Linked DNA regions of Homo sapiens: region 2 is linked to region 1. The links come from fine-mapping of genetic effects on gene expression. A gene starts in region 1. The other region holds a variant in brackets. All regions are shown on one strand. Distances are between the middles of the regions.

Region 1 (15,942 bases):
GCCTGGGTGACTGAGTGAGATCTTATCTCTTAAAAAAAGAAAAAGAAAAAAATAACCTGGCTGGGCGCGGTGGCTCACGCCTGTAATCCTAGCACTTTGGGAGGCCAAGGCAGGCACATCACGAGGTCAGGAGATTGAGACCATCCTGGCTAATATGGTGAAACCCCGTCTCTACTAAAAATACAAAAATTAGCCAGGCGTGGTGGCGGGCACCTATACTCCCAGCTACTCGGGAGGCTGAGGCAGGAGAATGGCGTGAACCCGGGAGGCAGAGCTTGCAGTGAGCCGAGATCGTGCCACTGCACTCCAGCCTGGGTGACAGAGTGAGACTCCGTCTCAAAAAAAAAAAAAAAAAAAAAAGAAAAGAAAAAAAGAAAAAAAGAACCTTTGAAAATATGTTACCTTACATGCAAAAGTGACTCTGCAGGATGCAATTAAGAATATTAAGATGGGGAGAGAATCTTGGATTATCTGAGTGGGTCCAACATCATCACAAAGATCCTTATGAAGGAAAGAGGGAGGCAGAGAGTCAGAAGAGATATGACAATGAAAGTAGAGGTTGGAGTGATGTGGCCACAAGTCAAGGAATGTGGGCAGCCTCTAGAAACTGGAAAAGGCAATCGATTCTCCCTTACAGCTTCCAGAAGAAACACAGACTTTGATTTTAGCCTTTTCAGATCAATTTTGGACTCCTGATCCCCAGAACTATAAGTTAATAAATATCTGTTGTTTTAAGCCACTAAGTTCATGGTAATTTGTTACAACAGCAATAGCAAACTAATATATTGTGTTTCTTCTGGACAATTGTCTTTTTTTTTTTTTTTTTTTTGAGATAGGGTCTTGTCTGTGGCCCAGGCTGGAGTGCAGTGGCACAGTCACAGCTCACTGCAGCCTCAACCTCTGGGTGCAAACAATCCTCCCATCTCAGCCTCCTGAGTAGCTGGGACAACAGGTGGGTGCCACCATGCCTGGCTAACTTTTGCATTTTATGTAGAGATGGGGTTTTGCCACATTGCCCAGGCTAGTCTTGGTCTCCTGAGCTCAAGCAGTCTGCCCGCTTCCGCCTCCCAAAGTGCTGGGATTATAGGTGTGAGCCACCAAACCTGGCCTGGACTATTTTTCCAAGGGTATTTCTATAGTGAACAGTCTTAGAAGATAAAGTATCTTCCTACAAAGCAAAGGGAAGTCATGCTTACTGCCCATTATAAAAGATTTGGGTTCCCCATGTTTGGATTTCCTCTCTTATCATGCAAACCACTGTGTGTACAGGTGTCACCTAGCTCTCTTTGTATCACCTTGTGGAAATTAGGGCTTGGGTAACTGGTGCAAGAAAATGCTGACATGGCAGCCACTGATACTGCTGTGAGTAACAAAGACCTTTGTTTCTCATGTAGGAGTCTTGTGTTTACAGTTTGAAACTGATAGCTTGTAAGTGGGGACTCAGATCCTTCACAGTTATTTGACATATTATAGAACTTGGATAAGCCACAGGTTCTGCCTTGACCTTTCAACTCATTGACCATTCTCAAATGGGAAAAAAGGCTGTAAGAATTATTCAAGTGCAATGAATGACGGGAAGACAATACTTTCTTCTTTAAACACCTCTCAGCTTCCAGAAGCATTATATTTTCCCCCCAGAAGCATTAGTATCCTCTGGAATTCTTGGATGATTGGCATCATACTACAGATTTTGAAAATTCCTAACCTTCTTTTCTGTGTCCTCAGTAATCACCTAAAATTTCCCCATGGCTCATTTGCTTAGTTTATACATGACGGCAGACTCTTCACATAAGCTAACCTCCTAAGGTCAAGAAACACATTCCAAGTATGTTTGTTTTGAATACATTTGTCCACTGAAATCACCAGGCTTAGAGTTTTACACACAAAATAAGACCAAACCTGAGTCTACTTATCAAAATATATATCCTTCTATTCATATGTTTCCAGGAGAACCAGTCTTAACACTTCTGCAAGATAGTCAATGCTTGCCTTAGGGACTGTGTCTTAGGTTATGAGCAGTAACTTGTTTGTAAGAGAGGTCAAAGGAGAATAGTCTTCAAATATTTTCAGGCATTTTCATAAGACCTGAGTAAATTCAAGACTCTTGATAAGGGATGAGTAGGTGAGATGCAGTAACTGAGATTAAGTTTATAATGGAATCCTGGCAAGACTTACCATCTACTGGGAAAAATTCGCAGTGAAGTTTATCTTGAGTATTCTAATAGACTCAGAATTAAAAAGACTTTGACGTGAAATATCATTTTTGATACTTGATAACATTTGCTACTCCACTTTGTAAGAGGGGAAATAAGAGGAAAGATGCAGATGGTAAAGAGGATTCCACTAGCTCTCTGTACAGCAGTGGTTCTCAACCAGGAGCAATTTTGCCTCCAATGTGACATCTGGCACAGTCTAGAGACATTTTCTATTGTCATGACAGGGGTAGGGTGGGACTGCTACTGACATCTAGTGAGTAAGGATTCTGCTAAACATCCTACAATGCACAGAAAAGCCCCCCACAAGATAAAATGATCTGACCCCAAATGTCAACAGTATCAAGGTTGAAAAACCCTGTAATACAGGAAGGATTAAAAATAGACTGGTGATAGAATAATTCTGTATCTTGACTGCAGTGATGGTAACATAAATTTATGTATGGAATTTTGCATACAGCTACATGCATACAGACACACACATGCAAATGAATGCAGGTTAAAAATATGGTACAACCAGTAAGGTCTGTAGTCTAGTTAACATGTCAATTTCCTAATTTTGATATTATGCAACAATATCAAATGCCACCACTGGGGGAAGCAAGGGTACACAGGACTCTATTTTTGCAACTTCCTATAATTACTTCAAAATAAAAAGCGAAAAAACGAATAGAGCCCCAGCCATGTTCTCCAAAGAGGCTGCTATGTCTCCTTACCTTGTGCCGCTGCCAGCCCCCTTTGCTTCTGTGTGTTATGCAGTGCTTGGTACAGCACCAAGAAAACTATGGGATCCTACTTAGCAACTTTTATCCAAAGTTTGTAGTGGCCGTACATATATTAGGTTGGTACAAAAGTAACTGCAGTTTTGTCATTAAAATATGGCAAAAACTGCAGTTACTTTTGCACCAACCTAATAGTTGCTCCTTCTACCCAGTGTCTAAAGTTTTAGTTGGCAAATTAATAAGCACCCATCTTTACCACCACCTCTTCTCCAGCCCGAAGACTCAGAAACAACTGGAACACTTCATTCCCTTTGATTTTGAAGTAGCCCTAGAGATATTTATGAAGTGTTCCAATTGTTCCTAGGCTATGGACCCAATTTGAGACTGGTGTTCTAGGAGAGTTTCTATTCCCCATTATGAACTCTTTCTCAAGACATCGTCCCTCTCAACATGCTTAAAATCATATCCATTCCTTAAGGGCTGGCTCAAAATCATTTCTTTCAAAAGCCTCTGACTTTTCCACCTTCCCCTGCCCCAGTGTTTTATTTCTTTGAACTTCTATTGTAAAGCAAATAAGTTCTAAGGCATGTATGTATACATCTATCTTTCTTTGAATTAATCAATCATCTATTTATGTCACTATACTATAAACTTCAGGAAAGACAAAGGAGTATAAAATATGATCTACTGCTCTAAAGGAGTTTCCTCTCTGGTGGAAAACAGGATGGTTCAATAATTCATTTCAACAATAAATGCTCTCATGCCAAGAAATCACACTGGGCACTGTGTGGTATTAGCTTGGTGCAAAAGTAATTGTGGTTTTGGACTGTGAATTTTAAATCATTATAACTAGGCTCAAATGCATCTTATTAATCAAAATAGGAACCATTACAATCAACACATTTTTGCCAACGAGAAATAAGTTTGTTTATTCCTGTAGCATAAAAATCCATGCTTTGTGATTCAGCGAACTATTGGAAAGCATGTTCTGCATCCTGCTGGTTGTGGAAGCGTTTTCCCTGCAAAAAGTTGTCAAGATGCTTGAAGAAGTGGTAGTCGGTTGGCGAGAGGTCAGGTGAATATGGAGGATGAGGCAAAACTTCGTAGCCCAATTCGTTCAATTTCCCAAGTGCTGGTTGTGCAATGTGTGGTTGGGCACTGTCGTGGAGAAGAATTGGGCCCTTTCTGTTGACCAATGCCAGCGGCAGGTGTTGTAGTTTTTGGTGCATCTCATCGATTTACTGAGCATATTTCTCAGATGTAAGGGTTTCGCCAGGATTCAGAAAGTTGTAGTGGATCAGACCAGCAGCAGACCACCAAACAGTGACCATGACCTTATTCTGGTGCAAGTTTGGCTTTGGGAAATGCTTTGGAGCTTCCTGGTCCAACCACTGAGCTGGCTGTCACTGGCTGTCGTATAAAATCCACTTTTCATGGCACATCACAATCTGATCGAGAAATGGTTCACTGTTGTTGCGTAGAATAAGAGAAGATGACACTTCAAAACGACAATTTTTTTGTTTTTCGCTTAGTTCACAAGGCACCCACTTACCAAGCTTTTTCACCTTTCCAATTTGCTTCAAATGCCGAACGACTGTAGAATGGTCAATGTTGAGTTCTTCAGCAACTTCAGGTGTAGTTATAAGAGGATCAGCTTCGATGATTGCTCTCAATTGGTCACTGTCAACTTCCGATGGCTGGCCACTATGCTCCTCATCTTCAAGGCTCTCCTCTCCTTTGTGAAACTTCTTGAACCACCACTGCACTGTGCGTTCATTAGCAGTTCCTGGGCCAAATGTGTTGCTGATGTTGTGAGTTGTCTCCGCTGCTTTATGACCCATTTTGAACTTGAATAAGAAAATTGCTCGAATTTGCTTTTTGTCTAACATCATTTCCATAGTCTAAAATAAATATAAAACAAACAGCAATGTCATTAGCAAAAAAAAAAAAAAAAGAAATGCACATTAAAATGATGTATAACATAACCACATTTATTTAAGAATGTATTCCAATATCAAATGACAAATTCCAACAGTGCAAAAACCACAATTACTTTTGTACCGACCAGCAGTTCCCCAACCTTTTTGGCACCAGGGACCGGTTTTGTGGAAGACAATTTTTCCATGGACTGGGGGTCAGGGGGAGATGGTTTTGGGATGAAACTCTTCCATCTCAGATCATCAGGCATTAGATTCTCTTAAGGAGCACACAACCTAGATCCCTCACATGCCCAGTTCACAATAGTGATCACTCTCCTAACAGAATCTAATGCCGCTGCTGCTGCTGATCTGATGGGAGGTGGAGCTCAGGCAGTAATGCTTGCTTGCCTGTCACTCACCACCTCCTGCTGTGTAGCCCAGTTCCTAACAGGCCACAGACTGGTACTGGTCCATGGCCCAGGGGTTGGGGACCTCTGGTATAAATGATGATTAAGACTTGATCCCTGTTTTCAAGGCCTTTATCTAATAAATGAGATATGCACAGACATATGATACAAGACAGAATGTGGTAAGTGACATCAAAAAGTAATAAAGCTATATGGGAATACAGAGGATTTAAAGACTATTTCGGATCCAAAAAGGGTTATTAGGGAATGTCACATTTGAGTCTTGCGGGATGGGTAAAATGATGGGGTCAAAATAAGGGGGAAGAATTTCTACTTGCAGTTGAAGCTGGAAAGTGCAAGACATGCTTGGAGAGCTTAGCTGACCAGTTTGGTTGAGGATAAGATATGAGTGAAGAGCAAGGTCTTTGGTTTACAGAAGACCCTGGACACCATGCCACAAAGTTTAGACATTACTCTTAACACTTTGGTGACAGTGACTGGAAATTTTCAAGCAGGTGTCATAATCAAAGCTTCGTTCTAGGATAACATATGGCATCACAGGAAAATAAGAGTTGAGGATGGAGACTTTAGATTGAGGCAGAGGAATCTGTAGGAGGTTATTGCTGTAATCTAGGCCAGAGCTCATGAGGGTGTAAACTAGACTGGTAGCAGGAGAAAGTTTCAGATAATAGAAGCTGTGCTACAAGTGATGAATGGTCAAGTGAAATGTGCAGGTAATTATGACGGAAGGTCAGATTCTGTAAGCTTGGGTATTCAAGGAGTTTCAGAAAGCAGGTAGCAATAATGGGTACAAGGAGGTGGGTGTAATGACTTGAAGGAATGATCAGAAGTTAAGAAAAGTATAATGTATAAGTGCTTCTAGGGATGATAATAAAGGTATTTGACTGGAATGGAGCATATATATTGAGAGCAACAGGAGTCAACACTAGGAGTTACCTGTGGAAGGCCTAGTTAGGAAGCTCTGGGCTGGGCGCAGTGGCTCACACCTGTAATCCCAGCACTTTGGGAGGCTGAGGTGGGTGGATCACCTGAGGTCAGGAGTTTGAGACCAGCCTGGCCAACATGGTCAAACTCTGTTTCTACTAAAAATACAAAAATTAGCTGGGCGTGGTGGTGCATGCCTGTAATCCCAGCTACTCAGGAGGCTGAGGCAGGAGAATCGCTTGAACCCAGGAGGCGGAGGTTGCAGTAGGCCGAGATCATGCCATTACCCTCCAGCCTGGGCGACAGAAAAAAACTGTCTCCAAAAAAAATAAAAAGCTTTGGCTTTATTTTCTAGGCAGTGGGAAACTTATGATAGATTTTTCAGTAGCCTAGTAACATGATGAAGTCATGTTATTTATAGCACTTACATGACATATGTACTACCTCGTATTAAAGGTATGTTCCTGGACACAAGATTAGAGGATTAAAGTTTGTCAGAGGATACTCAATGAATTCTTATTGAGTTGACTGAATCATTTTGTCAAAAAAGAATTATTCTATCGTGAATAATAACCTTCTATCAATATACTTGAACTCTGAATAATGGATTTTCTCAAAATGGGACTTCTTCAGTTGGAGCTGGCTCATACTGGCTTGTGAGGGCTTACTGGTAAAATTTCACGTGTTTTGTGAGGCAGAGGATCTCAAGTTGGTAACCATTTGCAAGTATTTACATCAAGGAAATTGGCAAATGTAATAAAGTTTATTTTCAGGAGGACTGGTTATTAGTCATTTACCAGGACATCACTGCCAGTCTCCCTCCTATCCCTCACCCCCATCATCCAACTATCACTTCAAGTTTTTTGACGGCAGAAACTGAGTCTTATTATTCTTGTATGCTCAATATAGTATTATACAGTATTAGGATACTGTGATAAAATATGTTCTTAAAATTTTCTCCAGACAGACCATTTAACAAACAAAAACCATTCAGAAGAAAATGCCACAAATAAACATCTAGACCTGGGGTTGGCAAACTATCTTCTGTAGGCCAAATCAGATCCTATGTCTGTTTTTGTTTTGCAAGTAGAGTTTTTAGTAAACATAGCTATGATTATTCATGTATGTATTGTCTATGATTACTCTGTGATACAAGGGCATAGCTTAGTGTTTTAGACCGAGATCCTGTGGCTCACAAAGCCTAAAATATTAGGTTGATGCATAAATAATTGCGGTTTTTGCAAATTTTTTTTTTTGGCACCAACCAAATATTTACTATCTAGCCCTCCCAGAAAGTTCACTAATCTCTGATTTACACCATAGTGCCCCCACCTCCGATTCTCATGCAGGTCAGGATTATATCTAAAAAGTGCCATAACAATGGATAACTATATGGTATCTTCTTACAGGTAAATCTTATTACCTTATAGTGTCACACACATCAAACATTTTTAGACAATAATGTAGACACAGATAATTGCAAAGTCCATAAATGCAGGGAGACAGACACACACACACACACACACACACACACACACACGGTATTTGTTGGAGAATCAAGGGAAAAACCATATCTCTAAATGGTAGGGAGTGAAGTCTTCCTGGGGCATGTGATACAGGATGAGTAGAAGTTAGACAGGTGAAGGCAAGGGGAAAGTCATTCTAGGTAGAGGAAGGCAGCCTAGGCAAAGCATGCAGGTAAGACACAGCATGACAGGGAAAAACAGGTAATGAGGAGCTAATGAAGTTGAGGAGAAATTTTATTTAGACATATGGAAGAAATTCCAAATGATTGGTTGTCCAGTTGTGGCACTTTCTAGCTTTAGAAGCAGTGATCATCTCACACCTGGACATAACCAAGTAGTCATCCTTCATTAAGCAGAAGGCCTTGTTATTGAGCCATGCTGCCAGAAATTTAGGTGATATCAAATGATGTCTATACTGAAATCGATACCCTCAGGATTCTCTTAGACCCAGATTCCATAGAGCTCTGCTAAAAAGTCGTGTTTATGTAACAGTATTTATTCTCAGAACAGGGTTGGACGGCTTAGGAGCAGAAAGGCAGAATGTATCTTTGCGGATTTGGGTCATAGTGGGCTGTCAGGATTTAAATTGTGCAACATTGATTAATAATGGGCTGGTTTGTACATTCCTTGCAAGTCATCTTTAAAAGCCAATGACGTCATTTCAAATTAGGATTCTCAGAGATAATTTCTCTCTGTATTACACTGAAAATAATTTTGGAACTATCCTTAATGCCACTTAAAGCCTGAAATTGACCAGTAACTTAATTTGATAGAATATAAGGCGAACACCTCAACTATATTAAATTGTCCCATTTGGGTGGACACTCCTCGGGCACCCTGTTCCGCCCTACACACAGATAATCTGGGGGCGCTCGCGCACAGCTGTCATCGTAGCAGCAGAGGCCACTGTCAATACAGGTTGCCTGACTGATCGTCTGACCAAACCGGGCTAACCCGAGGGCGGTAAATAAGCTCTGGCCATGAAGCAATGACTCCGCAGGATTGCGCAGGGCAGTCACGGGCGTTCACTCCATTTTCTGTTCGTTGTGCTGAGGCCTTTCCACCATTAACTTACCCCAACTCCCCCGCATAGGGCAATACGACCCCTCCAAATATCAAACGCTAAGCATATTAAAATAACAAAATACCTCGCCGCTATTTTATCACCAGACCCTCCTCCCAGCGGGGAACGCAGAGTAGACAGAGAGGCAAGGGAGGGCAAGGCGATTGTGACAGCGCGGAGGGGTGAACACGGCCCAGCTGGGCATGAGGTAAGGTGGGGAGACTACCTGGACAGCAAGCGCGCAGGCGCAGCCGCGGCCGCAGGGCCCACTGGTCCCTTTCTAGTAATTTCGCTAACCGTGACGTCATCTCGGTGCGCCGTTACAGCGCTTAACTGGAAACTGCGATTTAGTTTTTGGTGAAAGGAGTGGAAAAAAACCATGAACTGACCTACCCCGCCCCATTTTGCTTTTAGTCCTTCACACTGGCTTCGCCTGCACTTTGGGCAATGGAGCGGGAAAGGAAAAGGCACGCAGGCTGAGCTCAAAGTCGCGCCAGCCGGGGATGACTCGGCGACGCCGCCAGGCGCGTTACCCGGCGTGCTCCGCGCGGCGCCGGCGAAGGGACGTGGGGGAAGGGGCAGGGAGGAGGAAGCGGTGGCTGCTGCGGATGTCGGTGTGAGCGAGCGGCGCCTGAACACACGGCGGCTGCCGAGCGCCTGACCCGGGCCTGCGCCAGAGCCTGCACCGAGCTCCGGGGCCCCACACCCGCTACGGTGGCCCTGCGCCCGTTGCTACTGAGGCGGCGTGCTCTGCATTCTTCGCTGTCCAGGCCTGCCGGCTCTGGTGTCTGCTGGCTCCTCCTTGCTCGCCTGCTCCCTCCTGCTTGCCTGAGTCACCGCCGCCGCCGCCGCCACAGCCATGGCCGAGAGTGGTGAAAGCGGCGGTCCTCCGGGCTCCCAGGATAGCGCCGCCGGAGCCGAAGGTGCTGGCGCCCCCGCGGCCGCTGCCTCCGCGGAGCCCAAAATCATGAAAGTCACCGTGAAGACCCCGAAGGAAAAGGAGGAATTCGCCGTGCCCGAGAATAGCTCCGTCCAGCAGGTGAGGCCGCCTGGGGCTCGGGCCGGGATGGGGGTGGCGGCAGGACCTCCGCCCGCCGCCCCAGGAGACCTTTTGGAAGGGCCTGGGAGAGGGGTCGTCCTCGGCCATTCTCCCGGGCGTCGTCCCAAATTAGATCACACCCAAGTTCGTGGGTTTGCGCCTTGGGACACCGCAATGGTTTGTGGCGTGGCGGCGCGGCCTGTTTGTGGGACGGGCTGATGCCGCTTTTCTCGGAGCCTTCCTTCTCTGGTATCCGCCGACCCTCAGCCTCCTCCCCCAGTTCCCCGCCCTCCGTCGCCTCCCCTCCAACTCCTCACAAAGGAAAGGGACCCACCGCCAGCCTCCGGGCGGGGTGGAGGCTGGGCGGGGGCGAGGGTTCGCTTTAGCTCAGGCTGCGGTTTTGTTTCATGAATTAAAAAGGGGTGGGTGGGATCCTCGTTGTTTTACGTGCCTGCTTGTTAAGGTGGGTTTTGGGGTGAGGTGCATGTGTATATTTAGTTCTGCATTTTAACTCCTGAAATCTTTCCCACCTTGCAACCTTTAAAAAAAAATTATGACGTAGAAACTGTTTTTAGCTCCATCTTAAGTAATAGTGATAGTACTAGGTTTAAGGAGAAAAGTGAATGACTTTCTTTCACTGATGACTTGCTCTTTCCCTTTTAGTATGTTTATCATCTCTTAGATGCCAATCATTGGGTAGGTTTTTGTTTGATTTTAGAGGGGCGATAGCGATGTTGATATTAGCGGTTGCAATCAAATAAAAGAAAATCGGAGTGAATGCAGAATATTACTTAAACTTGGTTCAGGAATACAAATCTTGCAGTTAATTAAGATTCTTGGTGGAATTTAACAAATAATTTTAGTGTATTGTTGAATACGTCGTGTTTTCCATAATTACTGACTTAATCTCTGAAGATCGCAAACAACGTGAACAGTTGGTGACAGGAAACAACAATTCCTGAAATGTACCTATCAGTTTCCCCAGGGACAGTAGGTGATTGGGGTATTGGTTTAACGAGTTCCAAAGGTAGTGTATTTTGTGAAGCAGTGAGGTGTGTAACATCAAATGAGAGAAACTTTTACCACCAACAGAATTATCACTTTTGTTTTTGTCTCCCAGTGCTTGTAAAAATTTTCCTTACCATTTTTGTATTTTCAAGCATGCGGAAAGTTGAAAGAATTGGGAAGTGGATACACATATGTCCATCATCTACAATTAGCATTTTACGGTATTATAATCGATTATCAAGTTCATTTAATTTTGGGGAGCAATTCAGAGTAAGTTGCACGTATCAGTAGATGACACCAGTACATGTCACTTCAGCATTGTGAACTTATTTGCCTAAGTTCAACTTCATTTTTTACGTTTTTTTGACGTAATTTTGGCAGCAGTGAAATGCATATGGTTGCCATTCCGTGAGTTTTCATAAATGCTTACACCTGTGTAGCCCAAGCTCTTATCAAGATATAGAACATTATAATTGACTAGAAAGTTTTTTCTTGCCTTTTCCCAGTCATTTCAGTCACTTGGCCTTTCCATCAACCACCCAGTTTTTTTTTTTTATGCCCTAAGTTACAGAGTTGCCTGTTTTAGAACTTAACATTAAATGGGATCCCATAGAGCCTATAGTACTGTGTGTATTTTTCTGGGTAAGGCTTTTTTTTCCCACTCAGCATAATGTTTTTGAGTTTCGTCTTTGTTGCGTGTATCAGTAGTTCCTTTCTTTTTATTAGTGTGTAGTTTTCCACTGTATGTGTATACCATAATTAATCTATTCACTGTTGAAGGTCACCTGGGCTGTTTGCAGTTAGTTACTATGAACAGTCTTATACAAGTCTTTTTGTGGTCTTACTCTTTTATCTTTCATGGTTATATACTTAGACTTGGTTTGAGTAGGTCATAGGGCAATTGTATGTTTCAGTTTTGTGAGAAACTATGTTTTAAAAAATGCTTCTGGGCCGGATGCGGTGGCTCACACCTGTAATCCCAGCACTTTGTGAGGCCGAGGCGGGTGGATTGCCTGAGGTTCGAGACCAGCCTGGCCAACGGGGTGAAACCCCGTCTCTACTAAAAATACAAAACTTAGCTGGGCGTGGTGGCAGGCACCTGTAATCCCAGCTACTGGGGAGGCTGAGGCTGAGGCAGGAGAATCATCGCTTGAACCTGGGAGAGGGAGGTTACAGTGAGCCGAGATTGCGACATTGCAGTCCAGCCTGGGCAACAAGAGTGAAACTCCGTTTCAAAAAAAAAAAGGAGTGCTGGCTTCAGCAGCACATATACTGAAAAATGCTTGTATCATTTTACCATCCCGCCAATGAAGATACATGGGAGTTCCTGTTGCTCCATATCCCTGCTAACATTTTGATATTGTCAGTCTCTGTAATTTTAGCTATTTTAGCGGGTGTGTAGCCATATTAAGTTTTAAAGCTCTCGGATCTCTTTTCTAGGATTCCTAATTCATGCCTCCACCATCCTGGGTGCTTTCAGCATTTTACTGCAAAAGATTAGAAATAATCAGTATTTTATAAATAGAAAAATTCCTTTCAGTCAATATATGATGTTATAGCTGTGAGGATGTTTTTGCTTTTTGTGATGTTAAAATTATAAATTCTGTGAACGCTTTTATTTTACTCTGCTGTAACCAAAGTGAGATTTTTTTTTTTTTTTTTTTTTTGAGATGGAGTCTCTGTCACCCCCCAGGCTGGAGTGCAATGGCATGGTGTCGGCTCACTGCAACCTCCCCTTCCCGGGTTCAAGGATTCTCCCACCCCAGCTTCCCTAGTAGCTGAGACTACAGGCGCATGCCACACCACACCCGGCTAATTTTCCTATTTGTAGTAGAGACAGGGTTTCACCATGTTGGCCAGGCTGGTCTCGAACTCCTGATCTTGTGATCCGCCTGCCTCGGCTTCCCAAAGTGCTAGGATTACAGGTGTGAACCACCGGGCACCCGGCCCAGTACGAATTGTTAATAGATAAAATTAAAGTCTTTCTGAAGTAGCCTTTTCTGATGGTAGTTTATTTTTAAATTCTTGATCATTGTTTTATGTTGAAGCAGAAAATGTGATAAAAATTGACGCTTATCACCACACCAGAGAACCTGTAGACAAGTTGGGCTTTGTATATGCAAGGGAAACAGATACAGGAAAATGTGGAAGAAAAAGAAAAGCAGTTTTCAAATGACCTATTTGTAAAATCTACTTGAAGCACAAAAGATATGCCATTTTATAATTTAAAAATTTTAAAGGGTTTGATTGAAACTGTTTGTTACAAATGAAAATTTGTCATTAAAAATACTTAATGACATTAAAATTCCACTGAAAGTGTCCAGTTAGAAATTGGGAAATATTTAGTCTTTAAAATTTGTACCTAATTTTGGAGGGTCAGAGGGTAAGCCGAAGACCTCCAGAGGATAATATTGAAGGCTTATGCTCTGTATCAGACAAATTCCGTTTTCTATAAGTTAAAATTTCTTTCAATAAGTATTTCTATGTAATGTAGATTCCTTAACACATTATACCAAAATTCTGTTTATATGAACATGCTGTAATAAGTGATTAGATGAAATTACGTTAAACTTCTTGGGTAAATTGTAAGGTGGTAATTTATTTTCCTATTTTTCCATTGGTTTCTGGTCGTGAGTACCAACAGGCAGAAACAGGTTGCCTTAATTTTTTACAGTGCTATATACATTTGGTATTTAATAATGTTACTTGTTCAAGGTTACTAATAAAGCTTAAGCTTTTTTCCAATTTAGAGTGAAATTTATTATTCACGGAGCACTCAGAATCAACTGAGTAACATAAATTTTTACTTACAGGTTGCTAGAATAGGTAGTGAGAATATAAACTGCACTGTGTACATTCCAAGGTGCTGTCATTAATAGAGATTTTTGTAATACAGGTTTTGAGTATCCCTTATGGGAAATGCTTGGGACCAGAAGTGTTTGGGACTTTGGATTTTCTTTTTTTTTGGATTTTGGAATATTTGTATATACATAATGAGATATCTTGGGGATGGCACCTAAATATAAACATGAAATTCAGTTATATTTCATGTACATTTTATGCACAGAGCCTAAAGGTAATTTTATACAATATTTTAAATAATTTTGCGAGTGAAACAAACTGTATACATTGAACCATCAGAAAGCAAAGGTGTTACATATGGGATTTTTCCACATGTGATGTCATGGTGTTAAAAAATTTCAGATTTTGGAGCATTTCAGATTTCATATTTTTGGATTGGGGATGCTCAACCTGTATGTAAGTAAATAGATACAAAAGCATAAATGTGTAGTGGCACAAAGTCCCTGTGTATGAGATTTTTTTTTTTTGGTTAATTGTTCATCATCAGCTATTGAAAAGAGCTTTGAGGATTTCCAAGTATCCACGAGCAAGATAACATCTAGAAGAATGGAGAGTTATATATGTGAGACATTAGTGCAGATAATGGAGGGGAGTTTCTGTGTAACTTCTAATTAGCTTATTCTGGGATTTCATAGACTGTTAGGTTATGTGTAAAATTTTGAAGTACATTTACTTGAAATGTTCAGGCAGTATATACTCTGGTTTTAGAAAGTGCCTTCTGTCAGTGCAAACTTCTGGGAAAATATTAATATACTTAGACATAATTTAAACGTATTGAGTCAAATTGAGCCTTTCTTTGATAAGGCAACTTGCCTTAGGGTCATCATCACACACATGATTTAACGTTATACTGTATAGTGTGGATCTAGAACTATACTGTCCACTTTGATACCATCACCCACATGTGGTTAAGTACTTAAAAAGTGAGATGTGTTAAGTGTAAAATTTATACCAGATTTTGAAAATTTGGTATGAACAAAATAAATATCTTAATACTTTTGATATATTATGTATTGAAATAGTATTTTGCAGATCGTGAGTTAAGTAAAATATCAAAATTAATTTGACCTTTTATTAAAAACTTTTTTTTCAGTATGGCTGCTTAAAATTTTTAAATTACTTGTGGCTTATATATATTTCTGCTGGACAACATCTTATCCAGAAGGTTGGATTGAATCAGTATAGCAAGATATCTGAGAAAAAAAATGTCTGTGAGATCATTGTTTTCTTATTTGCTTTGTTCTAATACTGGACAGCTGAAAAACTCGTTATTTAATGATTCTGATTAACAGAGATTGCTTAGCTTTTTTTAAGAAAGAGCGTAATTGAAGTGTAATTTGCCTACCATACAGTTCACCATTTTAAAGTCTGTAATTGATGTAATACATTCACAGGGTCGTGTAGTCAATTTTAGAACGTTTAGAACCCTCAAAAAGAAACGCTGTACCCTTTAGCAGTTGCCCTTCGTTTCTCCCTGGGCCCCCCAGCCTTAGGCAACTACTGATCTATTTTTTGTCTATAGATTTGCTTGTTCTGGGCGTTTGTTGTAAGTGGAATCATGTGGTCTTTTGTGATTGGCTTTCACTTAGCATAGTGTTTTCAAGGTTCATCCCTGTTGAAGCATGTGCCGGTACTTACTTCCTTTTTATTGCCGAATAACATTCCATTGTGTTGCCAACAGCATTCCACATTTTATTTTTCTATCACGTGGTGGACATTGGGTTGTTTCTACTTTCTGGCTATTGTGACTAATGCCTCTGAACACTCATGTATAAGTTTTTGTGGGGACATAACGTTTTCATTTTTCTTGGGTGTAGATCTTGGAGTGGAAATTGCTGGGTCAAAGCTCTATGTTGAGCTTTATGAGGAGCTGCCAAATTATTTTCTAAGGTGTCTGTACCATTTTACATTTCCACTAGCAATGCATGAGGATTCCGATAACCACATTCTCGGTAATACTTATTACTGTCTTTGTGATTATAGCCATCTTACTGGCTGTGAAATGGTATCTTACTGTGATTATTTTGCTTTTTATTTTCATTATTATTTTTGCTGGGGGCACTCTGAGGAAAACTGGACAGCCTGCTAGACAAATTTGCTTTTTGTTATCTGAGCAGTAGTTCTCACTGTGGTTTGGGGAGTCCCCATACCCTGTTAAGGGTACCATGAGATGAAACTATTTTCATAGTAATTCTGAGATGTTATTTTTATTTTTCAGTCTAATTTTCTCAAAACTGG
Region 2 (15,942 bases), 750 kb before region 1:
AAGGACTTAGGAAATTGCACAGGAGCTCTGCAAGGCTTCTCTACATGGAAGTGACATGCATCCCTTCTGCTCATGTTTCATTGACCAAGTCAAGTCCTATGACCATGCTCATCTTCAAGACAGAGGGGAATTACCCAGAAGGAAGAAAATCAGAACCATCAGTGAATGGCACTAATGTTGGCCACATATGCAGACCACGGGTTCTGGTGATGCAGAATATGTAGATCCTGTCCCTTTTCTCCTCCAATGTTGACTTCTTGAATATTTTGACTCTGAAGTTCAATGCAGGGAAAATGTTGGCTCTGTGGTAATGAATGCAAACATTTTAATGAGAATTTGTTCAACCAGTATTTGTCAAGCTTCCTGCATCCCCAGCCCTCTTTGAGACACTGCAGAGTGAGCAGTGAACCAAAGCCTTTGGAGCCCACAGTCTAGCCAAGGAGGCAAGACAAATAGACAGATATAATAATGTCAGGAAATAGTAATTACCATGAGAAAAAAGAAAGCAAGGAAAGAGGGTGGAGAGTGAGTAGGGTAGTCCAAGAAGTTCTCTCTGAGAAGTGATACTTAAGTAGAGACCACCACAAAGTGATGAGTGAATTGGGTGATATCTGGGAGAAGAGGTAACATGGCAAGATCAAAGGAGTGTGTGCCTGGCATGTACAAGTAACAGTAAGGACAGCAGTGTGGCTGGAGCAGAGGGAACCAGGGCCAGGTGGAGGAGATGAGGCAAGAGGCATAACTAACAGCCAAGCCGCGCAGGGCCAGGCCACAGCTAGGGCTCGGAATTTGTACTGTGTCAGAACATCCCTAGAGCATGTGGACCAGGAGAGGTCTGAGTTGCACCAACATGAATCCATGTTCATAAAGAGACATTTTCAGAAGTGAACTCTATTAATTTAATTCCTTGCTTAAACGATACTCAATTATTTCCATTTTTATTTCTATTTTAATAAATTTAGTTTGATTGCTATTAAATCATTTCCTCATAAAATTTATGGCATAAATTTAGTCCAGTGAAATTTAGTTCATTGATTAGTTTTATGTCCATACCAAATTTTACAGAATTTAGCATCTGCCACTGGGAGGTGTATTAGTCAGGGTTCCCTAGGGAGATAGAATCAACCAATCGAGAGAGAGAGAGAGAGAGAGAGAGAGAGACAATAGATACATAGACAATAGATAGATAGACAATAGATACATAGACAATAGATAGATGATAGATAGAGAAATAAAGGTGACAGAGATAGAGAAGACAGATATAGGTATACAGATATACAAAAGGGGGTTTATCAGGGGAATTCACATGATTTTGGAGGCTGAGAAGTCCCACGACAGGCTGTCTTCAAGCTGGAGACCCTGGGAAGCCAGTAGCACCCAGGAAGCCAGGGAAGCTGATGGTGTAACTCTCAGTCTGAGCCCAGAAGCCTAATCACCTAAACAGCCACTGGTCTAAGTCCTGGAGTCCAAAGGCCAGAGAGCTTACAGTTCTGATGTTCCAGCAGCAGCAGAAGAGTGTATCCCAGCTCCCAGAGAAAGAAGCCAATTTGCCTTTTTTTCTGTTTCTGTTCTATCCGGGCCCACTGCCCACTGGATGATGCCCCACCCACAGTGAAGGTAGATCTTCCCCACTTAGTCCACTAAGTCTCACATGCCGAGTCTCTTCTGGAAATACCCTCACTCTAGGGAGTCCTCCATCCAGTCAAGTTGACGCCTAAAATTAATCATCACAAAAGGTGTTCCTCGTTTGTTCTGTCTTGTCTTTCTGTGGCCAATATTTTGGTCAAATCCAATGTTTCTAACCCAAGCTTTTTAGATCTAAATTTTTTCAAAAAGATTCGATTTTTCCATAATGTATTTTTTTAATTATCATGTATAATTTTAGCCACTGCCTTTTTAAGTTCATGTTGATTATTTTTAACCAGACAAATTTTCCCCTGGTCAGTTTTTTGCTATATAACTACCAAGATGTTATTCTTTTTTCTTGCTCTGTCACCCAGGCTGGAGTGGAGTGGTGTGAACATGGCTCACTGCAGCCTCGACCTCCAGGGCTCAAATAATCCTCCTACCTCAGCCTCCCGAGTAGCTGGGACTATAGGCATGCACCACCACACCCAGCTAACTTTTTGTATTTTTTTGTAGAAGTGGGATTTCACCTTGTTACTCTGGCTGGTCTCAAACTCCTGAGCTCAAGCAATCCACCAGCCTTGGCCTCCCAAAGCATGGGGATTACAGGCATGAGCCACAGCACCTGTATAATTCTTTGGTCAAGGTTTTGTTAGAAGACTGTTTTGTTTTGTGTTGCTTGCATATACCAGTAATATACATTATAATTGAATTTTTAAAAGATAGTTTTACTGGTTTCTTAGAGAAAAGGCCAAGAAGTAAGATCTTAGTGAATCAATAAGTCAAAATAGTGAGCAGGTCAGTTTCTTGCTCTTAGCAAACACTGATTGCTCAGTAAACATACTCATGATTGACCCCTGTTACAAGTAGGACAATACTGTACACCTGAATTTCTATTTATTCACTCCCAAGCAGACTATTTACATTTTTTATTGCCAAAAAAAGGCATCATTAGCTGAAGTAGGGTTTCACGCATTAATTCCATACATCAATACAAGAAAGGATCTCTAACCTGAAAACAAGATATGAAAAAATAAATTTACCTGTGCTTTTTTTTAAACTCACAGGTATAAGTGATTTTTTTCAAGGCTAACGTTGAAAAGACAGCCTTGTCAACCCCAGCCTGAACTAAATGGTTCCGCATTCTTTCCAGCTGCATAGACAGGGTTCTGTTTTAACCTATGGCCATTGCACTGCTGTTCTAGAATGTTTAGAGACTCCTGAGTTGACAGAGCTAGAAGCTGCGTGATGACTATTTCTTCTCCAGATGCACAGGAGAGGAAAGCCTAAAGTTACTTAGCAGTTATCCAGGTGTGTATCAAATGTCTACTCTTCAAAACATCCTTATGAGGCAAGAATTTCCTCCCCATTTTAGAGACAAAGAAACTAAGGTTCTGACGGGTTAAGCAGCTTGCCCAAGGTCCCATGTCTGGTACAATAATGACAGAGGCGGGAAATGAAATCCAGAGGCCAACCGGCCTCTAGAGCTCATGCATTTTAATCCCATCTAACCCAGCTTCATAACGGTTTCTATTTCACAGCACAGGAGTTTTCAAACACCAGAGGGCACTTTTTCCCCACCTGCAAACTCTGTGTGTGTGTGTGTGGGTGTGTGTGTGTCTGTTTGTGTGTGTATATGTAAGACAGAGTATAGCTATATTGCCCAGGCTGGTCTCCAACTCCTGGGCTGAAGTGATCCTCCCACCTCAGTCTCTCGAGTAGCTGGGATTGGATTAAAAGCATGTGCCACTGTGCCTGGCTCCTCCTGCAAGCTTTTGACCCCTACATACCTCTCCCAATGTCAAAAAGAATATTACAAAAAGACAATAATCAGTTTTGAGCCAGTGTGGAATACTCATGACCAACAATGGAAATTCAAGGTATGTGTCTCACAAAAACACGTTCCCAGACCCATCCCTAAGCAATGTAACATTTAAAACATTCCAGACACACTGCTGTATTTTGCATTATGCACCACACTTCGTGTTGTACTGTGTTGTGGTGCCCAAGCCACACTGTTCCAGATTTGCATTTCACGAAAGTAAATCCTAATTTCCCTGACTCTGCGACATATGTAATACATCATGCAACCCAAGGTCTCCTTCATCATTCAGTCTATTATACACATTACAACTCAAGTTCACTCACTTTGTCAAAATAAGTCATTCCTTTGAAATGAATTATAATAACTTAAAAGAAAATAAACTAAGATTCATTTTTTTCATGTCTCTTTATCCAACCCAGGATATCTACTTTAAACAACCACTCAAAATGTATTAATAATAAAGGCTTTCTCTGACTTCATGATCTAAAAAGCTCCCAGTTAATAGCAGTCACTGATTTTCAGCTTTCCTCCCTGGTAGACTGACCATAAAAGGCTGAGCCTGGCTTGTCTGATTTATTGGTACCATCATAGATTGTCAATTACTCATAAGCACTGCAAATGCTGAAACATTACATGCATAGGAACACTACACTAAATTATGGATGGCAATGTTGAGAAGTGTAATATATGAGGTCCCACCAGCACAACCTAGAGAACAACCTTTCAAATAAAAGTCTCTGTTTTAATGAGCACCAAAGGCCCATCCACATTAAACATATGAACTCAAGAAAAATAAATCAGAGAATCACAATTTATGAACCAAAAAGGGTGCATAAAGTTTGGGAGGAACCTAATTGCTGAGTTAACAAAGCAAAAGCAGTTCAGCATGTTAATAGCACAAAATACAATATAGTGCCAATTTAAGTAAACTCAAGAAGTCTAGTACTCAACTAAAAGCCTAATATCAGTACACTAAGATATATATACATGCAATGAGTAAACTGAAGAGTAGTGTCTTGAGTGGATTCCCTAAGGCACAAGACTAAATTATTTCTCTAACTTAGAGTGGTAGAGGGAGGCTTTGGGGGGTAGCACAATCAGGAATGCAATTCTGGGACCTCTTTGCTCTGTGAATATAAATCATTAAACAGCAGACAAATGATTTAACACTAATACGAACAAGGGTTCCCAGAGAATTAAATTTCTCTTCCCACAAATGACTCAGAATAAAAGTGAATTGGGCCATTCCATCAACTCCCCAAATGCCAGGAAATATGATGCCAGCACAAAATAAACATCGTAAGAATTGACATGGCTGTCTCCAGAACGATCCATGCCCTCATGAAGTTCCTCAATCCATATGCGATCTTTCCCAAATAGACTAATGAACTCAGTGGTCATCTAGTATACAGAGTCCCCAAAGGCCAGTCCCACCACCTGGGCTCACCATGATGCCGTCTTAAGCATTTTAGAGCAAAAACCAAGGTAGAAGATTACCAAATGTGCTTTCTTAGGAAGGGCCATCTTTTATTCTGAGATTATGCACTTCCTAATAATTCATATAAAAATTATATTTCTTGCCAGGCACAGTGGCTCACGTCTGTAATCCCAGCACTTTGGGAGGCCAAGGCAGGCGGATCATCTGAGGTCAGAAGTTCGAGACCAGCCTGGCAAGATGATGAAACCCCATCTCTACTAAAAATACAAAAATTAGCCAGGGATGGTGGTGCACACTGTAATCCCAGCTACTTGGGAGGCTGAGGCATGAGAATCACTTGAACCCAGGAGGCAGAGGTTGCAGTGATCCGAGATAGCAACACTGCGCTCCAGCCTGAGCGATAGAACGAGACTCTGTCTCAAAAATAGATAGATAGATGTATAATTCTTTTAAAAATAATGACCATAAGTTTGTCACTGTCAAGGTCCTTTTAGTTTAATTTCTTAATTCAGCAAGATATAAAGTTAACAATTCTGTGTTGGAACCCAATTTTTTAAAATTTATTAGCTCATAAAACTAACAATCGGTGAAAAATCCTCAATAAAATACTGGCAAACCAAATCCAGCAGCACATCAAAAAGCGAATCCAGCAGCACATCAAAAAGCTTATCCACCATGATCAAGCTGGCTTCATCCCTGGGATGCAAGGCTGGTTCAACATATGCAAATCAATAAACATAATCCATCATACAAACAGAACCAAAGATAAAAACCACATGATTATCTCAATAGATGCAGAAAAGGCCTTCAACAAAATTCAACAGCCCTTCATGCTAAAAACTCTCAATAAATTGAGAGTTTTGATGGGATAAATGGGAATAAATTGAGGTATTGATGGGACGTATCTCAAAATAATAAGAGCTATTTATGACAGACCCACAGCCAATATCATACTGAATGGGCAAAAACTGGAAGCATTCCCTTTGAAAACGGGCACAAGACATGGATGCCCTCTCTCACCACTCCTATTCAACATAGTATTGGAAGTTCTGGCCAGGGCAATCAGGCAGGAGAAATAAATAAAGGGTATTCAATTAGGAAAAGAGGAAGTCAAATTGCCCCTGTTTGCAGATGACATGATTGTATATTTAGAAAACCCCATCGTCTCAGCCCAAAATCTCAAGCTGAGAAGCAACTTCAGCAAAGTCTCAGGATACAAAATCAATGTGCAAAAATCACAAGCATTCCTATACACCAATAACAGACAAACAGCCAAATCATGAGTGAACTCCCATTCACAATTGCTTCAAAGAGAATAAAAGACCTAGGAATCCAACTTACAAGGGATGTGAAGGACCTCTTCAAAGAGAACTACAAACCACTGCTCAATGAAATAAAAGAGGACACAAACAAATGGAAGAACATTCCACGCTCATGGATAGGAAGAATCAATATCATGAAAATGGCCATACTGCCCAAGGTAATTAATAGATTCAATGCCATCCCCATCAAGCTACCAATGACTTTCTTCACAGCATTGGAAAAAACTACTTTAAACTTCATATGGAACCAAAAAAGAGCCCGCATTGCCAAGACAATCCTAAGCCAAAAGAACAAAGCTGGAGGCACCATGCTATCTGACTTCAAACTATACTACAAGGCTACAGTAACCAAAACAGCATGGCACTGGTACCAAAACAGAGATATAGACCAATGGAACAAAACAGAGGCCTCAGAAATAATACCACACATCTACAACCATCTGATCTTTGACAAACCTGACAAAAACAAGAAA[T/C]GGGGAAAGGATTCCCTATTTAATAAATGGTGCTGGAAAACCAGCTAGCCATAGCAGAAAGCTGAAACTGGATCCCTTCCTTACACCTTATACAAAAATTAATTCAAGATGGATTAAAGACTTAAAACGTTAGACCTAAAAACCATAAAAACCCTAGAAGAAAATCTAGGCAATACCATTCAGGACATAGGCATGGGCAAGGACTTCATGTCTAAAACACCAAAAGCAATGGCAACAAAAGCCAAAATAGACAAATGGGATCTAACTAAACTAAAGAGCTTCTGCACAGCAAAAGAAACCACCATCAGAGTGAACAGGCAACCTACAGGATGGGAGAAAATTTTTACAATCTACCCATCTGACAAAGGGCTAATATCCAGAATCTACAAAGAACTTAAACAAATTTACAAGAAAAAATCAAACAATCCCATCAAAAAGTGGGGGAGGGATATGAACAGACACTTCTCAAAAGAAGACATTTATGCAGCCAACAGACACATGAAAAAAGGCTCAACATCACTGGCCATCAGAGAAATGCAAATGAAAACCACAATGAGATACCATCTCATGCCAGTTAGAATGGTGATCATTAAAAAGTCAGGAAACAACAGGTGCTGGAGAGGATGTGGAGAAATAGGAATGCTTTTACACTGTTGGTGGGACTGTAAACTAGTTCAACCATCGTGGAAGACAGTGTGGCGATTCCTCAAGGATCTAGAACTAGAAATACCATTTGACCCAGTGATCCCATTACTGGGTATACACCCAAAGGAGTGTTAAGTCATGCTGCTATAAAGACACATGCACACGTATGTTTATTGCGGCACTATTCACAATAGCAAAGATTTGAAACCAAGCCAAATGTCCATGGATGATAGACTGGATTAAGAAAATGTGGCACATATACACCATGGAATACTATGCAGCCATAAAAAAGGATAAGTTCATGTCCTTTGTAGGAACATGGATAAAGCTGGAAACCATCATTCTGAGCAAACTGTCACAAGGACAGAAAACCAAACACCACATGTTCTCTCTCATAGGTGGGAATTGAACAATGAGAACACCTGGACATAGGAAGGGGAACATCACACACCGGGGCCTGTCATGGGGTGGGGGGAGGGGGGAGGGATAGCATTAGGAGATATACCTAATGTAAATAACGAGTTAATGGGTGCAGCACACCAACATGGCACATGTATACATATGTAACAAACCTGCACATTGTGCACATGTACCCTATAACTTAAAGTATAATAATAATAATAAACTGACAATCTAAAAATCATCATCTTATACTCTAGGGCAGCCCAACTTTATTAATCAACATATACCCAGTAAGAATCAAGGAATGCTGGCTCTGCTTATTTTGCTACTTGATTATGGTTGGAGGAGAGAGCCATGCAGTATAACCTAATTTAGGGGACTGGTCCCAGCTTCCTGTAAAATGAATCAAGTAAATGAATGAGAGTCTCTCAAGCATTCACGCTTGAGCAGTTCAGTCATCTGGAATGCTATGGTGGTTTAGGCTTCATTTTCCACCTGGGTTGATATCTCAGACACACTGAAGATCCTTTCCACACTCTGGACTGACAGTTTCTTGACCTCCGTTATTTAGTTTCCACTCCACATCAGCTACCAATAGGCAACAAACCTTATTTTCACTTGTACAATGGGACTACCCTTTCCTTTGATCTTATAGCAAGGCAGGGGACCCAGAGGACACAATAATTGACAAGTGGTGATTGGACATGGCACCTCCCAAGGCTTAGTCAACCGAAGAGCACTTTGAAGTGAGCTTCATATTCCAGAAAAAGAAAGTTGATGGACCTCTTGCATCTTATGCAACCAAGGTTATGCAGGCAGGTGCCAGGGGCCTCTCATGCTGAGATGTACCGAATATTTTCAATGGGGGTTCCTAAGGAAAAAGAAAACATCCACTGCATGGCAAGATAGCAGATTATTTTTGGAAACTTAAGAATGATCAAAGAAAAAAAAAACAGGACTTCTTAAAAGAAAGAGAGAAATGGAAAAAAAAAAAAAAAAAAAAAAAAAAAAACCAAGCTTAATACCAGGAGCACAACCTACACTAGGGATCAAGGGGACTTCAAAGTCACACGAGGAGGCTGGGCACTGAGAATGGAGAGAAGCCCTTTCCTTTCTGCACCCACCTTCACTCGAGTCTGTTTCTCTGCCTGGGTGCCCTCCCTTCCCCAGCCCACCTCTTTAAGTTAACATTTTCTCCACCTTCCAAGACTCAGTTAAAAACCATTTCTTGGCCGGGCGCAGTGGCTCATGTCTGTAATCCCAGCATTTTGTGAGGCCAAGGTGGGCAGATCACTTGAGGTCAGGAGTTCAAGACCAACCTGACCAACATGGTGAAACCCCATCTCTACTAAAAATACATGCCTGTAATCCCAGCTACTCGGGAGGCTGAGGCAAGAGAATCGCTTGAACCTGGGAGATGGAGGTTGCAGTGAGCTGAGATTGCACCACTGCATTCCAGTCTATGCAACAGAGTGAGACTCCATCTCAAAAAAAAAAAAATCTTTTAATAAGCCTTCCTTCCCCTTGGCAATAAATTTTCTCTCTCTCTCTTCAGCGTAACCACAGCATTATATCTCTCTTGTAATAGTAGTGCCTATCATTTTATCCTTTGTATTGTGATTTAAGATATAGCACTATTTCTCCTAACATTTTGAAACAATCACAAGAGCAGATCTATGATTGATTCATCATTGTATACAGCTGATGTTCAATAATGACTTGCTGGTAGAAAAGTGAATGAATAAATAGAAAATTGCATATATTTACTTTAGTCTTCCTGCAATTCCACGGAAATCTCTGCCTCCAGGGTCAAATAAGTCAATAAAACACCAGAGAGCAGGGAGGCTTTCTCTAAACATAGTATGGAATTTGACCATTAAGGTGCATTTTTAATTCTCTATTTCTTTGGGGGTGTTTTGTTTTGTTGAGTGAGACACTGCACTCTGTTGCCCAGGCTGGATTGCAGTGGCTCAATCTCTGCTCACTGCAGCCTCAATCTCCTGGGCTCAATTGATTCTCCCACCTCAGCCTCCCAAGCAGCTGGGACTACAGAAGTAAGCCACCAAATCCAGCTAATTTTTGTTATTTTTTGTAGAGATGGAGTTTCGCTATGTTGCCCAGGCTGGTCAGCCTTCCAAAGTGCTGGGATTACAGGCATGAGCCACCATGCCCTGCCAATTCTCTGCTTCTTTTTATTTTCTATATAGTATACCTGGGCATCTGAGAGGTGGCTGGGAAGACATATACAAACCTACTGGCTGGGGGATGCTAATAACTCATAATTACAAAACTTCCACCTTTGGTAACTACAACCACTTCTAGATTTTCAAACTCTGTTCACACAGACACACAAAATATTATCTCATTTGACACTCACCACTACTCTGCCAGAAGAAAGATAAAAGCATCACAGGCATATTCTCCCCAACGGAGCTGATAAAGAGGAAAAAAAAAACTGAGATTCTGAGAGATGCAGTAACTCATCCCAAGTCATACAGATGGCCAGTGGCAAGGCAAGTTTCAAATCTAGATCACTCCTTTGCCAGAGAAAACACACCTGGAGACATTCACCAGGGGTAGGGCAGGAGTGGGGCAGGGTCCACAGGCTGAAGAGAGCAATGTTGGGTAATGGGTTTTGAGAAGGCAAAGTAATCCACACGAAATAAACAAGAGATGAATGTGAACATTCTCCCAATGTAGCTGCAGTGCCAGACCTCACTGACACACCCATCCCTGTAAGGGACCCAGGCAGTGACTCTGAAGACCATTGGCGTGTCCATACAGGTGTTGATCCATGGGCCTCAAGGCACTTGAAATAGATGAAGTCATACTTCAGCGTAGCAGTCCATCCATCTATTCAATAAGCATCATGGGGTGGCTTATTCTCCATGGGGCTGTAAAGTCCTATTTCTGATTTCAAAGACTGTAAATGAATGATTTGTAAGAGAAGAGAACAGAAGTTCTAAGAGTTAGGTGGGACGCAGTGGCTCATGCCTGTTATGCCAGCACTTTGGGAGGCTGAGGCAGGTGGATCACTTAAGGTCAGGAGTTCAAGATCAGCCTGGCCAACATGTTGAAACCCTGTCTCTACTAAAAAATACAAAAAATTAGCCAGGGTGGTGGTGCACACCTGTAATCCCAGCTATTTGTGGGACTGAGGCAGAAGAATCGCTTGAACCCTGGAGGCAGAGGTTGCAGTGAGCCAAGATCGTGCCACTGTACTCCAGCCTTGGCGACAGAGTGAGACAAGAAAGACAGACAGACAGAAAGGAAAGGAAGGAAAGAAAGGAAAGAAAAGAAAGAAAGAAAAGAAAGAGAAAGTTCTAAGAGTTAAACTCCTCTCAGCTCTACATGGTGGAGCCAGAAATGCCATACATGTTTTCTGACTCTGAAATCCTTGCTTGCCTCTCTGCTTTTACAGGAAAGGGAGACTGAGACAGGGTGAGGTTAGCATGACTTAAGCCACACGTGGGGCAGAGAAGAGGTAGGATTTATGAGAGCTAAATCCCATGTCTGCATTTTGGCCATTAAACAAGGCTCTCTTCTAAGAAGGGGACACAGTGGAGACATTGCTTTCCTTCTCTTTATACCAAAAGAGCCAAGAATTCAAAGCCCCATCCAGCCAAGCCCTCTGTAACTGACCAGCCCTCTCGGCTGTCAGCAGCACCCCCCAGGGCTGCCCTATACGTTTGCATGGCAGACATCTCCAAGCCAGAATCATAGAACTTCTCACCAATAGACAGTTGCTCATTTGCCTTGAATTCAACAACTAGTTGTCTTTTAATCACTTTATGTGGTAGAAAAATGAATTTCAAAAAAGATACATTCTGGGCCGGTGGCAGGGGCTCATGCCTGTAGTCCCAGCACTTTGGGAGGCTGAAGGGGGCAGATGCGTGAGCTCAGGAGTTCAAGACCAGCCTGGGCAACATGGCGACACCCTGTCCCTACAAAATATACAAAACATTAGCTGGGCGTGGTGGCATATGCCTGTAGTCCCAGCTACTCACAAGGCTGAGGTGGGAGGATCATCTTAGCTGGGGAGGTCTAGGCTACACCGAGCTGCACTCCAGCCTGGGTGACACAGACCCCGTCTCAAAATAAGCAGGGCAGTTGGGGGAGGATCCTCCGTTAGCAAAAAGCAAATAATAGGTGCCCAATTTACAAATAATACTCTATTTTCACTCTGTATGAGGAGGTTCTTTGCCTGACTCTAGATATTAATCTGTAGACAGATGATTCTTCTCCCCGTTTCCCTGTGAATGATGTGTCTTGCACACTGTGGTATCCCTCGCATCTAGCACAGTGGCTGGCATGCAGCAGAAGCCCTATATTTGTTGGATGTTGATGTTCACCTGTGTTCATGAGTAAAAAGGCTGCTATTAACCTGCTGCCCTTACAATACTTATCCTGGAAAGACCCCCTGATATCCAGGGTGGCTCCCTAGGCTTAGGAAAGCAGGGGCCAGTGAGTGGGGGTTGCCTGTGTGTTTTCCCAGCAATTCCAATGACAATGCGCCTGGATGTTGACTCATCTAATGTTAGATGTTAGTCCTAAATATGGCAGCCCACACTGATGAGCACATTTTTATGTGCCTCCTGCAAGAGACAATTGTAGCAGCCACATATAGCCTGGCCTTGGGACACCTGGACAGTAGGTAGTGTGCAGAAGTCTGCTGCTTCAAGTCACCATTCAGGAAAAGCAGCAAATGGCACTGCAAAGCCTCTAAGACTGTGCTGCTGTGGTGCTGTGACAGGAAAAGTGACAAGGAGGAAACGCAGAGTCATCATCTATTGAACATCCACTTTGTGCCAAGCACTTGGAAGTTGCTGTTATTACCCCCACATTTCAGAAATTAGAAAATTGAGGCTTCCAAAGGTCAGGTAGTTTGTCTAAGTTTCCTCAGCTGAGATGCAAATTCAGGTTCATTTTAAGCCACATCCCACATTTTAAAGGCCACTACATGGTATATATAATTCTGTTCTTGCTTTTTGAGGGCAGCACTTTGCCCAGCGTTGAGTGTGTGGTATTCCTGTCCTAGTGGCAGGTTGGTGGTCCATTGAGTATCTAGTGAAACAGTTCCCCCGAAGACACCGGAAACCAAGATTGTGGCATTTCCTTCAATATGCATATTTGCTCCATCCCGTCTCCCTTCCTTAATCTCTCATAATTTTTATTTTTCTTCTGACTTCCTGTTCCTTTCTGCCTATATCTTGGCCTTGCAATGACAGCCCTATGACCCTTAAAGCTACATGTGCCAAGTCATGGATCTAAAGAGCTTAATTTAACTAGGTCCTGGGATGGCCAAGTTCATGGCTGACATCATTTCTCAGAATCCAGTGGGGCATAGCCCTGTTGGCTGCAATGCATCAGGACATGGTGTGAGAGTCCAGAACCAGGAACTGACCTTGCCCACTAGAGGGACAGGCTTGGTGGGGAAAGCCCTACTGTAGGTGCTTCCCTTCTGGAAGGCTGAGTGAATGCTCCAGGATGCATAGCATTAGAGGTTCTATAAAGCTGGTGGCATCAAATCATTCTAATGGAGGGAAAAGGTGTCCTAATGATGTGAACAGAGGAGAATGTAGGAAATCAAAGACAGTGGACAATGCTTGGAGAACAACAAGGAGTTAGACTCATGGATACCTGCCATCAGGCAACAGGGGAACAGCCACTGGGCTCGTGACCAAAGCCAGGATCTCAGATCCTTGAGAGCTTAGCAAAGATCAAGGTAGAAGCCCAGGGGTACAAGGGCTGGCAACTGGGCAAGTTATCAAAACCCAGATGAGGGTGAGAGGTTGGAACAGCAGACTACAGCTCAGGGTGGAGAGAGCACATCTAGGGCTAGAGCCTGTTAGGGGTTTTCCTCCACCAGCCAATCCTCCAGCACCAACCAGGTGTCCTGCAGTTCAATTCAATTCTAACCCTAACAACCAGAGTTAGCACCAGACTCCACAGATCTAAGCGGCTCAGTCCCATAAAATCGCCTTCCCTTCAGACGCCAGCTGCAAGTCTGGGTGCGCAGGTTACCTGGACTTCTGTCTGCCTCTGCTACAAAGTCAGGGGTTCCCACAACCTCCTTCCTCAACCTCAGTAATTGGCTAGAATTGTAATCACCCAATGGGTTCACCTTGCCCGCTCCCTAGACAGAGCAGATTTCTCAAGACAGGGGAACTGCAATAGAGAAAGAGTAATTCACACAGAGCCGGCTATGTGGAGGACCGGAGTTTTATTATTACTCAAACAAGTCTCTCCAAGCATTCAGGGATTAGAGTTTTTAAGGCCAGCTTGGTGGGTGAGGAGAAACCAGTGAGCCAGGAGTGCTGATTGGTCAGGTAGGAGATGAAATCATAGGGAACCTATGTAACAAACCTTTACGTTCTACACACATATCCCAGAACTTAAAGTAAAATAAAAATAAAAAGGAAAGAAATCATAGGGAATTGAATTTGTCCTTTTGCACTGAGTCAGTTCCTGGGTCGGGGCCACAAGATCAGATGAACCAGCCAATCAATCTGGGTGGTGCCAGCTGACCCATCAAGTGCAGGGTCTGCAAAATATCTCAAGCACTGATCGTAGGAACAGTTTAGGGAGGGTCAGAATCCCATAGCCTCCAGCTGCGTGACTCCCAAACCACAATTTCCAATCTTGTGGCTAATTTATTAGTCCTACAAAGGCAGTCTAGTTCCCAGGCAAGAAGGTGGTCTGCCCTGGGAAAGAGCTGCCATCGTCTTTGTTTTAAACCATAAACCAAGTTCCTCTCAAAGTTAGCCCAGCCCACGGCCAGGAACAAACAAGGACAGCCTGGAGGCTAGACACAAGATGAAGTCGGTTAGGTCAGATCTCCTTCACTAACTCAGTCACAATTTTGCAATGGTGGTTTCAGAATGACTCACAGAACTCAGGAAAATACTATATTTCCTATTACCATTTATTATAAAAGATGCAAATGAGCAGTCAGATGAAGACGTGCATAGGGTGAGGCCTGGGAGGGTCCCCAGCACAAGAGCCTCTGTCCCCATGGAGCTGAGATGCAACACCCTCCCCGGAAGTGGATGTATTCATCAACTCAGAAGTTTCCTGCATCCCATCATAGAAGGGTTTGGTTTTGGGTTTTTGTTGTTGTTGTTTTGTTTTTTGTTTTTTTGTTTTGAGACAGAGTCTGGCTCTGTCGCCCAGGCTTGAGTGCAATGGCATGATCTTGGCTCACTGCAACCTCCGCCTCCCGGGTTCAAACGATTCTCCTGCCTCAGCCTCCCTAGTAGCTGGGATTACAGGCACCTGCCACCATGCCTGGCTGATTTTTGTATTTTTAGTAGAGACAGGGTTTCACCATGTTGGCCAGGCCGGTCTGACCTCAGGTGATCCGCTTGCCTCGGCCTCCCAAACTGCTGGGATTACAGGTGTGAGCCACCGCACCCGGCCCATATAAGGGTTTTTATGGAGATTTTGTTACACAGGCGTGATTGCAGCTGCTAGTAACTAATGGGACTCTAGTCTCTCTTCCCTCCCTAAAGCTCCAAGGGTGGAGCTGAACGTTTCTAGCTCTAATCACAGTGTGGCCCCCCGGTCACCATGCAGCCATCCAGGAGCCCCTCTGTCTAGAGTCATTATTAGCATACCGAAGACACTCTTATTGCTCAGGAGATTCTAAGGGTTTTAGAAGCTGTGTACCACGAACCAAGGACAAAGACCAAATATTTTTTATTATGCCACAGAGGCAAATGTCCTACTACCAAAATAAAGGTCAGAGCCACACAGGTAGCAAAGACGACTTATAGCTGCATCCTCCAAACTGATCCAGAGCCTCAGCAAGAGAAAAGGACAGAGGGGAGCCTGTACATGTGAGGCTGAGGCAGGAAGATCACTTGAGCCCAGGAGTTCCAGGCTGTAGTTCTCTATGATTGTAACTGTAAATGCCACTGCACAGCTGCCTGGGCAATATGATACCCTGTAAGGCCCTGAACGACGTGGGAAAGATGCGGGAGCTTAACTGGTGATGAGAGGCCAAGAAGAGTTGAACTTAATGCAATTCAACCAGGACACCTGGTTGGTGCTGGAGAATTGGTTGGTGTCTGGAAAAGCCTTCTGTTCACATTGCATCAGAGCTCCTGCTAAGTCATGATTTTCATCATGGGTTCTCTGCTTTCCCCCAGATACCTTATAAAAATTAACAATAAATAGGTTTATTATTGATCTTTTTAGATTGATGAATAA

Evidence for each region.
Region 2: its variant is fine-mapped to the expression of UBQLN1-AS1 in cerebellar hemisphere (GTEx, PIP 0.97).

The regions. Positions count from the first base shown.
Region 1 is chr9:83,701,392-83,717,333 of GRCh38, reverse strand. UBQLN1-AS1 (UBQLN1 antisense RNA 1) reads right to left here and starts at 9,499. Exons shown (of 2, transcript NR_135839.1): 1 at 9,022-9,499; 2 at 3,838-4,836. UBQLN1 (ubiquilin 1) reads left to right here and starts at 9,376. Exons shown (of 11, transcript NM_013438.5): 1 at 9,376-9,834. The coding sequence starts at 9,655. RefSeq lists enhancers at 8,574-9,462, 9,626-9,695, 9,463-10,353.
Region 2 is chr9:84,448,989-84,464,930 of GRCh38, reverse strand. All of the region lies in intron 2 of LOC102724036 (a long non-coding RNA gene), which reads right to left. LOC124902192 (a long non-coding RNA gene) reads right to left here. Exons shown (of 2, transcript XR_007061630.1): 2 at 1-302. Among named protein-coding and RNA genes, the nearest start is that of SLC28A3, 120 kb to the right of the region's middle. The variant T/C (reference allele first, on the strand shown) is at 6,685.